2 separate regions of the Homo sapiens genome follow, and region 1 is linked to region 2. Evidence: fine-mapped expression QTL. A gene starts in region 2. The other region holds a variant in brackets. All regions are shown on one strand. Distances are from middle to middle.

Evidence for each region. PIP is the estimated chance that this variant, and not a neighbour inherited with it, causes the effect. A credible set is the group of variants that fine-mapping cannot tell apart.
Region 1: its variant is the best candidate, but not a certain one, in a credible set for the expression of NEPRO-AS1 in whole blood (INTERVAL, PIP 0.80).

The regions. Positions count from the first base shown.
Region 1 is chr3:113,091,546-113,096,928 of GRCh38, reverse strand. All of the region lies in intron 1 of NEPRO-AS1 (NEPRO antisense RNA 1), which reads right to left. The region is part of intron 1 of LOLI1 (lncRNA oncogene in liver cancer 1); the gene reads left to right. Among named protein-coding and RNA genes, the nearest start is that of LOLI1, 10 kb to the left of the region's middle. RefSeq lists an enhancer at 1-4,282. The variant T/C (reference allele first, on the strand shown) is at 2,401.
Region 2 is chr3:113,016,871-113,022,253 of GRCh38, reverse strand. It overlaps NEPRO-AS1 (NEPRO antisense RNA 1), which reads right to left and starts at 2,736. Exons shown (of 3, transcript NR_186663.1): 1 at 2,548-2,736. It overlaps RMP64 (ribonuclease MRP subunit p64), which reads left to right and starts at 2,583. Exons shown (of 9, transcript NM_015412.4): 1 at 2,583-2,712; 2 at 4,652-4,806. The coding sequence starts at 2,607. RefSeq lists a silencer at 2,795-2,904 and an enhancer at 3,065-3,134.

The DNA of each region.
Region 1 (5,383 bases), 75 kb before region 2:
CTGGCACATAGAAAGTATTATAGAAGAATCGACTTCTATTATTTATATATAATAAGCACACACAAAAGGTTAAAAAAGCAAACAAAAACTCAGTCAATCTTAACATGTGGTTTGTATATTATTTTTAAGTGACCACATATTTTTTCTTTCCAGAATAAATGATATCTAAGATGGAAATGAGACAGGTTAAATGAATGCTAGTCTGGGTTTAATAACAAATCCATGTTTTTGTTCAGATGAGGAAATAAACCTCAATGATTGCATCAAAATGACCTCTGATTGCCTGATATTAAGATGTCCAAAGCAGGCAAATGTTCAGCCTATTTAAAATCACCACTTTTTTTCTGATTTAAGGGTGGTTTAAGGGTATAAACCAACTTCGTTAAAAATAAGAGGAGCTTGTTCCACTAGAAGAAACTTCTTCCAGCCTCTGAGCCAATGTTCCTAACCTGCCTGAAGAACAAATCTACCATTTCTTTGAACCTCCTTGGTGGCCCCCAGTCCCTGTGCCACAACCAAGCTCTGTTTGATTTGACAAGCTCTCACTGTGTCATGGCCCCTGCTGGCCTAGCTATACAATGGTAGACACAGGGAGAAAGAAGTTTCCCCAGTGGTCCTGCGAGGCTGTGCATTTGGTGGAGGAAAGAAAATCAGGCTGGAAAACTCCTCTGTTCTGACAATTTGGAGAGGAACATTCCAGTGACTGCCTTATTTACCTTCATGAAATGGCAAAGTGGGGACAAACAATATCTTAGCTGTCTGAATGATGGCTCTTTTTACTCTGCCCAGCTCTCAACATCTCTGAGTCTAATAGATTGTATTTCTGAGGGCAGCCTATGTCCTCAGTCCCTCATGGTTACCTTGGAATGAGGAGGAGCCTTCACATCATATTGCAATCCCTTAAAAAGACACATTTCAATTCTCCAAAGTTATTTTTCTCAAAATACAGGAAGTTTGCTGATCTAATTTCCTAGAGATAGTCCCCAGGGGTTCAGAGGCAAATTTTTCGTAAAATAAGCTGGATAACACAACAGCAACCTGGAGAGAAAAGGAGTCTGTACTACTGAATGTGGACAATTCATCTCTGCAGAAGGTGATGCAAGATTTGAGTTGACGTATAATTTTAGGGAAAAGTAGTCTTGTAAGAAAAATGCACAGAAAATTTTTCCATAATATCGAAAGGTCAAAATTAATTTTGAAAGTTTTTGTGGGTGTGAGAAGTTGAAGACTTATGCAAATATTATTTTTGAAATGAAGAATAAATTCAGAAAGGTGAGGCCAATAATAAAAGACATAAAAGTCAGAACCATAGGTTTATAAACAATCCTGACTTTGAAAAACCACTTGGAATTCTTAACATTATTGCAAAATTTACAACTTCATGTGATATTAATAGGAAAAGTAACTGCTTTTATTTTGATTTCAAATATCTTTAGTATTAAAGACTACATTCTATAAAGGCATAATTTTTTTAAATATAAAAATCCTTTGGATGATAATTGACTGTGAGTTTATGGTGAATCATTCATCAAGGTGTGGTAATGGTGTATCTTTTCCCAATTTTCTTTTTGGCATAAATAGTTTTAGTCTGTCATTATCATCATTCATAGAAGGAAAAAAAATAAATGTTTTCTCTTATAAAAACATGGGGACTGCTCAGTAAATAAACTGTTATAAAATTAAAATTGGGTTTCAACTCTGAAGATGAAGTTGTAAGAAACTGTCCACTTTTGATTCTGAAGTGGGCTTTTGTAGTAGTTTTCTGAACCTCTGGAATAAAGGGGGTTGATTTGTGATGGAATCTCCAGAGCCTGCAGTCATATATTAACAATGTGTTGTAAATCCAGAGGGTACAATATAGATTTCACAGGGGGCCCTGGGGTTAATTGAAATTCCATCTGTTTCTTCTGTGTGGCAGACATAGTATCCTGGGATATTAGCTCAGGATAAGAAATGAGATTTGCAATTTTTTTTATTTTTAAGCTAGAGGAGAGGTTTGCCTAAATCTGCTCCTCCCTACTTCTACCTCCTACCTTCAATTAAGGAAAAAAAAAAGTTGAAAATGCAGCCTTTATTTTCTCCACAGCTGCCCCTGAGGCAGCCCCCCTTCTTTCCAATGCATGCCGGGTAATGCCACGTATTCTTAGACTCCCAATGGCCCCCATTACTATCAATTAGTTACGGAATGCTACAGGGATTCATGCCTGACAGCTCGGGTAAAGGCAGGAGAAATGGGCTCAGTAGGGAGCGAGGGGCCTGATTCTTTTTTGTCCACAAGAAATACCTTTCTCAGCAAGGCTTTTAATGGCCTTCCCTTCTTCTTTTCCTCTGCCCAGGCACCCCCAACGATCTCAACACACAGGATATACACATACCCTCATATATTCATACACCGACCTG[T/C]TTGTGTGAATGCTGCCCAGGACTGTGAGAACTCTCAGAGTAGGAGGCTCTGAGATGTCCTTATAACCTCTGAAAATAACAGAGCTTGAAAATTCCAGCTTATATCTTTGCTAGAATCTGATTCCTAAGTTCTCTCTTCAGAAGATTTCTTGTTACTAAGGGCCTGCTTTGCCTCTAGCTTATTAGTATATTTTCCTTCTGCAGCTCTCCTCCCTCCAAAGAAGAAACACACTCTCTTTGGTCACAGACTCCCAGTAGGGAGCCCGCTGCACTCGTGCTGGCCAGTGGCTTGGGCAGTGAATTGTAGTTGGCCATCTCCTACCACTCTTATGTCTTTCTGATTTCTTTCCTTTACCTCTTGCTCTCTCTTCTCTACTTTCCAATATTTTCTCCCTCTTCCTCCTATCATGCCTAGATCATTCCACTGACTCCCAGAGACTTGAGGCCAAGTGCTTGTTTTAGTCATCTTTTCTCCCTCTCTCCCCTTCCTTACTCACCCCAAGTGTTTATCATAACAGGATCTGCCTCAGGACCTTTGCTCTTGCTGTCATCACTGCCTGAAACACCTGTCCTAGATATTTGAATAGTTGCCTCCATCTAATCATTTATATCTGAGCTCAAATGACACAAAACACAGTTCCTCCCTGACTTCTCAAGGTAAAGGGTCACAATTTATACCCAGTTGTTCTTTCCCATTATTATATTCTTTTCATAGCCTAACACATTATCTGAAATAGTATTATTTAGCTATATGTTTATGTGTTTATTGACTGCTTCTTCCATTAGAATGAGTCTTCATAAGGACAATTTTTTTGTTGTTGTTGCACTCCACGGAATAAGAGTTTTGTTGCACTCCATGGACAAATAGGAGCTCAATAACATGTATTGAAAATGAATGACTGAATAAAGTTTTAAAAATGTGATGCTATTGGTTGTTCTCATGGTTAAGGAGAACCCAGCATCACACCAAAATGGTTTGCCTGTTTCTGGTCTGCTACCTTTAAGTACCAAGCCTTCCTTAAGATTCAAAACAAAGATACACTTAGAAAAAACCTGATGGGAAAATGACAGATCTAATAGACAATAGCAAATACAATGCTTAAAGCGATTATATTTCTCTAGATGGGTTTAAGAAAGATGACAGAGTAGGCCAGGCACGGTGGCTTATGCATGTAATCCCAGCACCTTGGGAGGCTGAGGTGGGCGGATCACCTGAGGTCAGGAGTTCGAGACCAGCCTGACCAACATGGAGAAACCCTGTCTCTACTAAAAATACAAAATTAGCCAGGCATGGTGGTGCATGCCTGTAATCCCAGCTACTCGGGAAGCTGACGCAGGAGAATCACTTGAACCCACGAGGCGGAGGTTGCGGTGAGCCAAGATTGTGCCATTGCACTCCAGCCTGGGCAACAAGAGTGAAACTCCATCTCAAAAAAAAAAAAAAAAAAAAAAAAAAAGACAGAGTAAAGGTAATAGAGGATGACACAGAGGAAAACACCATCTGGGGCAATTAGCCCCGGGGTTATACACAGTTCCAGTTCCTTTGTCTCCTGGGGCATGGCCTAGGGCAGGGTGTGTAGGGGAGTCAAGGGCAGAAGCAGTGAGACACTTCCATCGTCTCATCCAGACATCTATAGGAAGGCAGAGGAGTCCCAGGAAGAGAGTAATATGATGGAAACAAGTGAGGGGGGTAGTGGGTGGAATGTGACTCTCAGAGAGATTTCCTCAGCCCAAGGGTAAGGCGGTAGGCATGTATTTCAGGCAGCAGGCATGTATTTCTTGAAGTCTGGGGCTTTATCGGGAGGACACTGCCCAGAGCAGGACTCAGGTCTGCAAACTGCAGCTACTTTATATTGTCACCCCATCACCACCCACATAGTGCTTTAAGATTCTGACAGAATCATGAGGCTTCATATAATGCCATCTGAGATGAATTTCCAATGCTGTCTTATTATTACATCTGCCTTACTTTAGTGCTTTTCAAACTTTAATGTGTATTTGAATTACCTGGAAAACTTGTTAAAATGCTGATTCTGGGAAAGGTTCTGAGATGCTGCATTTCTAACAAGCTCCCAGGTAATGCCATTTTGCTAGTCCACCTACACACTGAGAAGAAGGACATTACCTCACCATCATGGCGAGAAATGGAGAGCTTGGTAAAGATGGATTGACTCTAACCTCAATTAAAGAAGCAAGGGCCGGGTGCGGGGCTCATGCCTGTAATCCCAGCACTTTGAGAGGCCGAGGCAGGCAGATCAGGAGGTCAAGAGATGGAGACCATCCTGGCCAACATGGTGAAAACCCGTCTCTAGTAAAAATACACAAATTAGCCGGGCGTGGTGGCATGCTCCTGTAATCCCAGCTACTTAGGAGGCTGAGGCAGGAGAATTGCTTGAACCCGGGAGGTGGGGGTTGCAGTGAACCGAGATCGTGCAACTGCACTCCAGCCTGGGTGACAGAGTGAGACTCCATCTCAAGAAAAAAGAAGCAAGAATTTCATTAGTAAATATTTTGTTTCTACATATAAGGAAAAAAATAAACATTTATATCTATGACCCTTGTATTTTTCCTTTTTGGTAAATGAGTGTCATAGGTGCTTGGAAACAGTAAATGAATTCATTACTAGAGATAGCAAAGCTGTTTGTCAAGTGTAAATTTCTATTTTTTTCCACACCACACTCTTGAATGTGTATAATAGAGGAGGAGAGAATCAGATCTATTATACAAACTTACTTTTTTCTTCTCTTTTGTATCTTTCCTTCCTTCTTTTGTTCCTTCCTTCCTCCCTCCCTCTCTCTTTTCCCTCTTTCTTTCTTTCTCTTTTCTTTCTTTCCTTCTTTCTTCTTCCTTCTTTCTTTCCTTTCTTTCTCTCCCCCTCCTTCTTTCTTTCATTCATTCTTTCTTTCCTCTTTCTCTCTCTCTCCCTCTCCCTCCTTCTCTTTCTTTTTCTCTTTTCTTTCTTTCTCTTTCTCCTTCCTTCCTT
Region 2 (5,383 bases):
TCCACCCCTCAGCACAAATCACGTCCCAGCAGTACCAACTCAGGACTAGTGATTCTTCAAACCCATGCTGCTTAAAACCTCTCTGTAGGAATATCCTTTTTCCTTTAACTGCCTGGGGAGTTCCTATTCATCCTTCAAAAGACTCTATTCAAGCATCATCCAACCTCATATACAGCCAGTAAATATCTACTGAGGCCCTACTATATGCCAGGCTCTGAACTAAGCATTGAGATAGAAAGACCAGTTAGCTATGTCAATGGTAGTTCTCGCTTTCAGTAGGTTCATATGCCATTGGAGAAATAGACATGAAAGTAAACAAAGAAATACAATAAAGCGAGGTAAATTCTGTGAGAGAGGCTGTGGTAGGCTGAATAAAGATCCCTCCACCTCCCACCCAAAGATGTTCACATGCTAATTTCCATAATCTGTAAATATGTTACCTTGCACTGAGAAGGGATTTTGTAGCTATATAACCTTGAGATTTCAGCTGCTTGAGATTTCAGCACCCCAGCATTTTTGTGTGTGTGTGTGTGTGTGTGTGTGCATGAAATAATGAAAATTTTGAACAGGCCCTTGCTTGCTTGTACATGTTAACCACTCGCTTTTTGCCCAGTATTCCTTGTTCCCACAATGTAATTATAAACTGCTGATGTACTGTTTCTTTGTCAAGCAGAAGGAGATAACTTCAGGGTCATAAGAATAGTTTGCAGAAGGAATGAATTCCTGGAAGGACATTGCAACCAGCTGCCATGTACATACGGCTGCACAAGGTGTTACCTGAAATGGAAGAAACACAGACTTTTCCCTTGGATTCCTTGAAACTCCCTCTCCATTACTCTCTAGCTCCATAAAAACTCCCTGCTTCTTTTTTGTTACTGTGGATCTGAGAGATCTTGCTCTCTTGCCCTCTAACTTTGGTCAAATCGAATAAATATTTCTCTGTCTCCAAGCACCAGTATCTCAATATTTGGCATCAGCTGCCCATCGGGTACATGAGCCTGAATTTGGAGTTCTAAAACAGATGTGATTAAGTTAAAGATTCTGAGATGGAGTGACTATCCTGATTATCTTGATGGGCTCAATGTAATCACAAGGGTGTTTTTAAGAGGGAGGCAGGCAGGAGGGTGAGAGAGACAGAGGAAGAGGAGGAGACTGAAAAATGTCATGCTGACAATGAAGGTGGAGGATAGTGAAATGAGCCAAGGAATGAAGGCAGCCTCTAGAAGCTGGAAAAGGAAAGGAAATGAATTCTTCCCTAGAGATTCCGGAAGGAACCAGCCCTGCCAACTTCAGTCCATTGAAATTAATTTTGGACTTCTGACCTCCAGAAATGTAAAATAACTTCTACTTATTTCAAGCCATTAGGTTTGTCGTAATTGGTTACAGCAGCAATAGAAAACTAATACATAGGCCAACATAGGGCACTGTGGTAACACATTAAAGGGGCCTCTGTATCAAGTTATGGAGTGAGGACGGGGTGTTTAGGAAGAATTACCCCAAGTGACGACCCCAGAGCTGAGGAAAGGAGATTGTGTTTCCGAGGATGACCCAGGTAGAGTAGGTAGATGTGTAAAGGCGCACAGAAAGAGCATGGAAAGTGTTTCAATAAAGTAAGACTGCTTGCATGAAATAGTAGTAATAACATCAACAATATTAACTATGGTAAATGTTCATTGTTTGTATGCCAGGAGTGCCTTGGCATTTTACAAGTCTGTGAGATTGATACTATTATTATCATCTTCATTTTACCCACAGGGATACTAAGGTCTGGAGGAGGAGGTAAGTAAATTTCCTGAGATCACCGAGCTAGTAAACAGCAAAGCTAGAACTAGAACCTTGGCAGTCTGTTTCCAAAACTCACTGTTTTTCTAATACGTTACTGTGGGAGTGTTAAGAACTTAAGGGGGCATTAGCATGGCTGAGGATAAATGAATTATTAGAAAGATATTAATGAGGTAAGGATCACTAGAGCTTGGAATATGATCTTGTCTTGGAGACTGACAAAAGTGGGAATGACTGACAGGTGTCTTCCAAGTTTCTTTGATGTGATCTCGGTTTTGCTGTGGTTCAAGACATAAAGGAGCCTTCCTTTACCACTCAAAGCAAATCACTGCTTCTTCGCTACAAATTCCACACCTTGCACAAACCTCTTCATTTCATTTCTTCCTTTTTCCCCTAATGTCTGAGGCAGAGTTGGGGGTAAAAGCACCAACTCAATTCTGGGCCTCATTTTCCATATTTGTAAAATGCCTAGAAGTATTTAACAGTTCCAAACTTGGTTGTGCTTCCGAATCCCCTGCGCTAAGTTTAAACAAAACGCAGATTCCTCATCGCATTCTCAGAGATTCTGTTGGTTAGTATTGGGATGGGGCCTTTTTTCCCCCATGATTCTACGCGGCCACGTGTTGGTAACCAATATACAGATGACTGGGTCCTTCCCAGTCCCACGCGTTTACTCGATGAAGGCAGCCTCCCGCCGGGCTCCTGGCCCCGCCCGAGCCCCACCCCCTGCTCCCTTCCGGCCCGGACTGGGTCCCATCGCCCCACCTCCGGTCGCTGGACGTGCTCTCGCGTAGCTCCGCCTTTCGTAAGTCCCCCCGCCTCGCATGATGGCTGCGGTGCCGCCGGGCCTGGAGCCGTGGAACCGTGTGAGAATCCCTAAGGCGGGGAACCGCAGCGCAGTGACAGTGCAGAACCCCGGCGCGGCCCTTGGTGAGTGAGGCGCCGGGCGAGGATGGGGGAACGTTTCCGGGGGAGGCCGCCAGGCCCAGCCGGCGCATGTGGGCGGGGGTGGTACCGGGACTTCCCGGCCCGGGGGACGCTGGGAAGGGGCGCGGGGCACGTAGGGGTCGAGCGGTCCCAGCACTTTGCTGGTGTAGCTTGTAGGGCCTCTGGCTTCGCATTCCTTCATTGAACCAGCTGTGCTAACCCAGGGCTTGGCTGGAGAGATGAAAGACCAAGGCTCAGCCGTGCGCTGAGGGGGCGGAGAGAGGTGGACTCAGCTGGTGCCGGGGAACAGTGCTGCCTGGGAACCCTTGCTCACCCGGGTCTTCGGAGTCTTGTTTACCCTTCCGTCCATTTCCCCTTTCCTTCTTTTTCCTGTACCCGAGGAGCGGTGGACGTCACCTAAGCACTGGGACTCAAACTGCAATCTTTTCGGACCTCTATCTGCTTATCTGTGAAATGGAGTTAGTCCTCCTACTCCTCACAGGGGCGTTGGGAATATCTAATGATGTAATTTAGGAGACAGTGCGCTGTAAACGACGGTGTTTTGCCACCTAAATGGGTGGTATTTGTTAGGGTGAAGGGCATATAGTAGGTAGGAGCCTGGCGCAGGAGCCAGGTTGTTTGGGTTTGAATACTAGCTCTACCCTTTGCTGGAGCTTGAAGGAGTCATTGAACCTTTCTGTGCCTCACTGATCTCACTTTCAAATGGAGATAAAAGCACCTTCCTCATAGGGCTGTTTGGGGGGATGAAAGAGTTGATAATGTAGAGAAAGCATTTGGAACACTGCCTGGCATGGTAAATGAACACTCAAATGGAAGCTGTTATGAATATTAAATACGTAGCTCCGGGGCCCAAGGGAGAGAATACAGTCATGGGTTCTTTGTTTCCGGTTGGGCTGGTAAAGCCCTTTCCTCATCCCTCTTTTCACTAGAGACAAACTAAAAACCATGGCTTTAAGCTGCAAAAAGCCTAAAACAAAACAGAACAGAACAACAAAATAAGGCGGGTTGGACAAGCTTGACTTAGATCATCACATCCCCTTTCCCATATATCCATCCTACACACTTTACAGATTATCCCATCTATCCTTCCTACACACTTTACAGATTAATCTTCCCTCTTTCTCTATTCAAAAATTCTTTAACAACTCCTATTAGGCCTGGGAAATTCACCAACTCACTACCCATCCCCGAGGCAGCCCATTCTGTCTTCAGGTAGTTGTTGGGACAGTAAGAAAATTCTTGTTAGGTAGCAACCAGCCTTTACTTCCATTTAGAATGCTAGTGCTGCCTTTAGAGCCATAAATAACACATGAACTACATCTTAGGGACTTCTACAGATTTTCAGACTAGGAAGCATCTGCTGATGAGCACCCGGTGTTCATCAAATAATACGATTTCCAGTTACTGTGGTGGTTTTTCTTTTCTGAATATGTTTGTGTCTCTCATAAAGTGATATCCAAACACAGAAGCCTTGATTTTGAAGACTGTGAATTTATTCATTCTGTCTTGCTTTCGGGCATAGCGACATGGGGAGTTAGAGAGTTATTACACATGTTGTGACATGTGCCCTACCTTCAAGGTGGGGGTTAAGTGTACACATGAGGCGTAAGTGTACACCAAATGACTGACAGCAAAGTATTCATATGAAAGATTATTAAACCATGATAAAATGCAATGCAAAGATACAGCTTCTTGTTTTACAGATGTTCTCTTAATGATTTCCTGGACTTTATATCATCTGTTACCATTTTCCAACTTCTCTTATACTTAGAATCCTTACGTTCTTACAGTTGAGACTGATTACATTAGTTTTTGATTCCTTTAAAACAAATAAGGAAAGATGCTTTTTTTAGTGTGTTTTTAATATAATATACTTACTGTAGAAATACATACTAAATCTTATTAGATGTCTCTGCTTCAGACCTTTGCATTGCAGCTGTAATTAAAGAATGCCATCTCGTCATACTGTCGCTGAAGAGCCAAACCTTAGATGCAGAAACAGATGTGTTATGTGCAGTCCTTTACAGCAATCACAACAGAATGGGCCGCCACAAACCCCATTTGGCCCTCAAACAGGTGAGGAAGCCCGGTAGGTGAGACCCAACCTGTTCACTTGAAAATGTAGATCACACTGCCACTTACTATATTGCTATTTATGGAAATCTCGTGGAAATCTCAGTAAATTACTTGTGTTTTATAGGCCTATAGCCCACAGTTACATGTGCACTTTCTTTTTTTTTCCTAAAAGCATTTCAGCATTTCAAAAAGTAATTTTTGTTAGAAAAGAAGTATGTTTAGATTCTTTCCCAGTCTTGTTTCTAATAGGCAAGTAAACATTTTCTTCATTATATACAATCTATAACAACAGTGCCTTTGCCCAGCTCAAAGATAAAGTGATTTGAGCAAGACAAAATGTTGGACATTAAGAAACAGTTCCCTGGGCATAATCAGAATGCTAAAATTATTTTTAAAAAAACTTGTCTACTTATTATGGGGTACATAATCTAATTGGTGGTATGTTAGAGTAAATGGGTACATAGCAAGTTGTGGTGTAAACTGGTTTCATGTAATGTTTGGAGCTTAAGACAAAATTGGGCCCTCCAGCTCAGGGGCTATACCATAGAGTAGAGCCTCTCTTAAGCTGGCTTCCTGA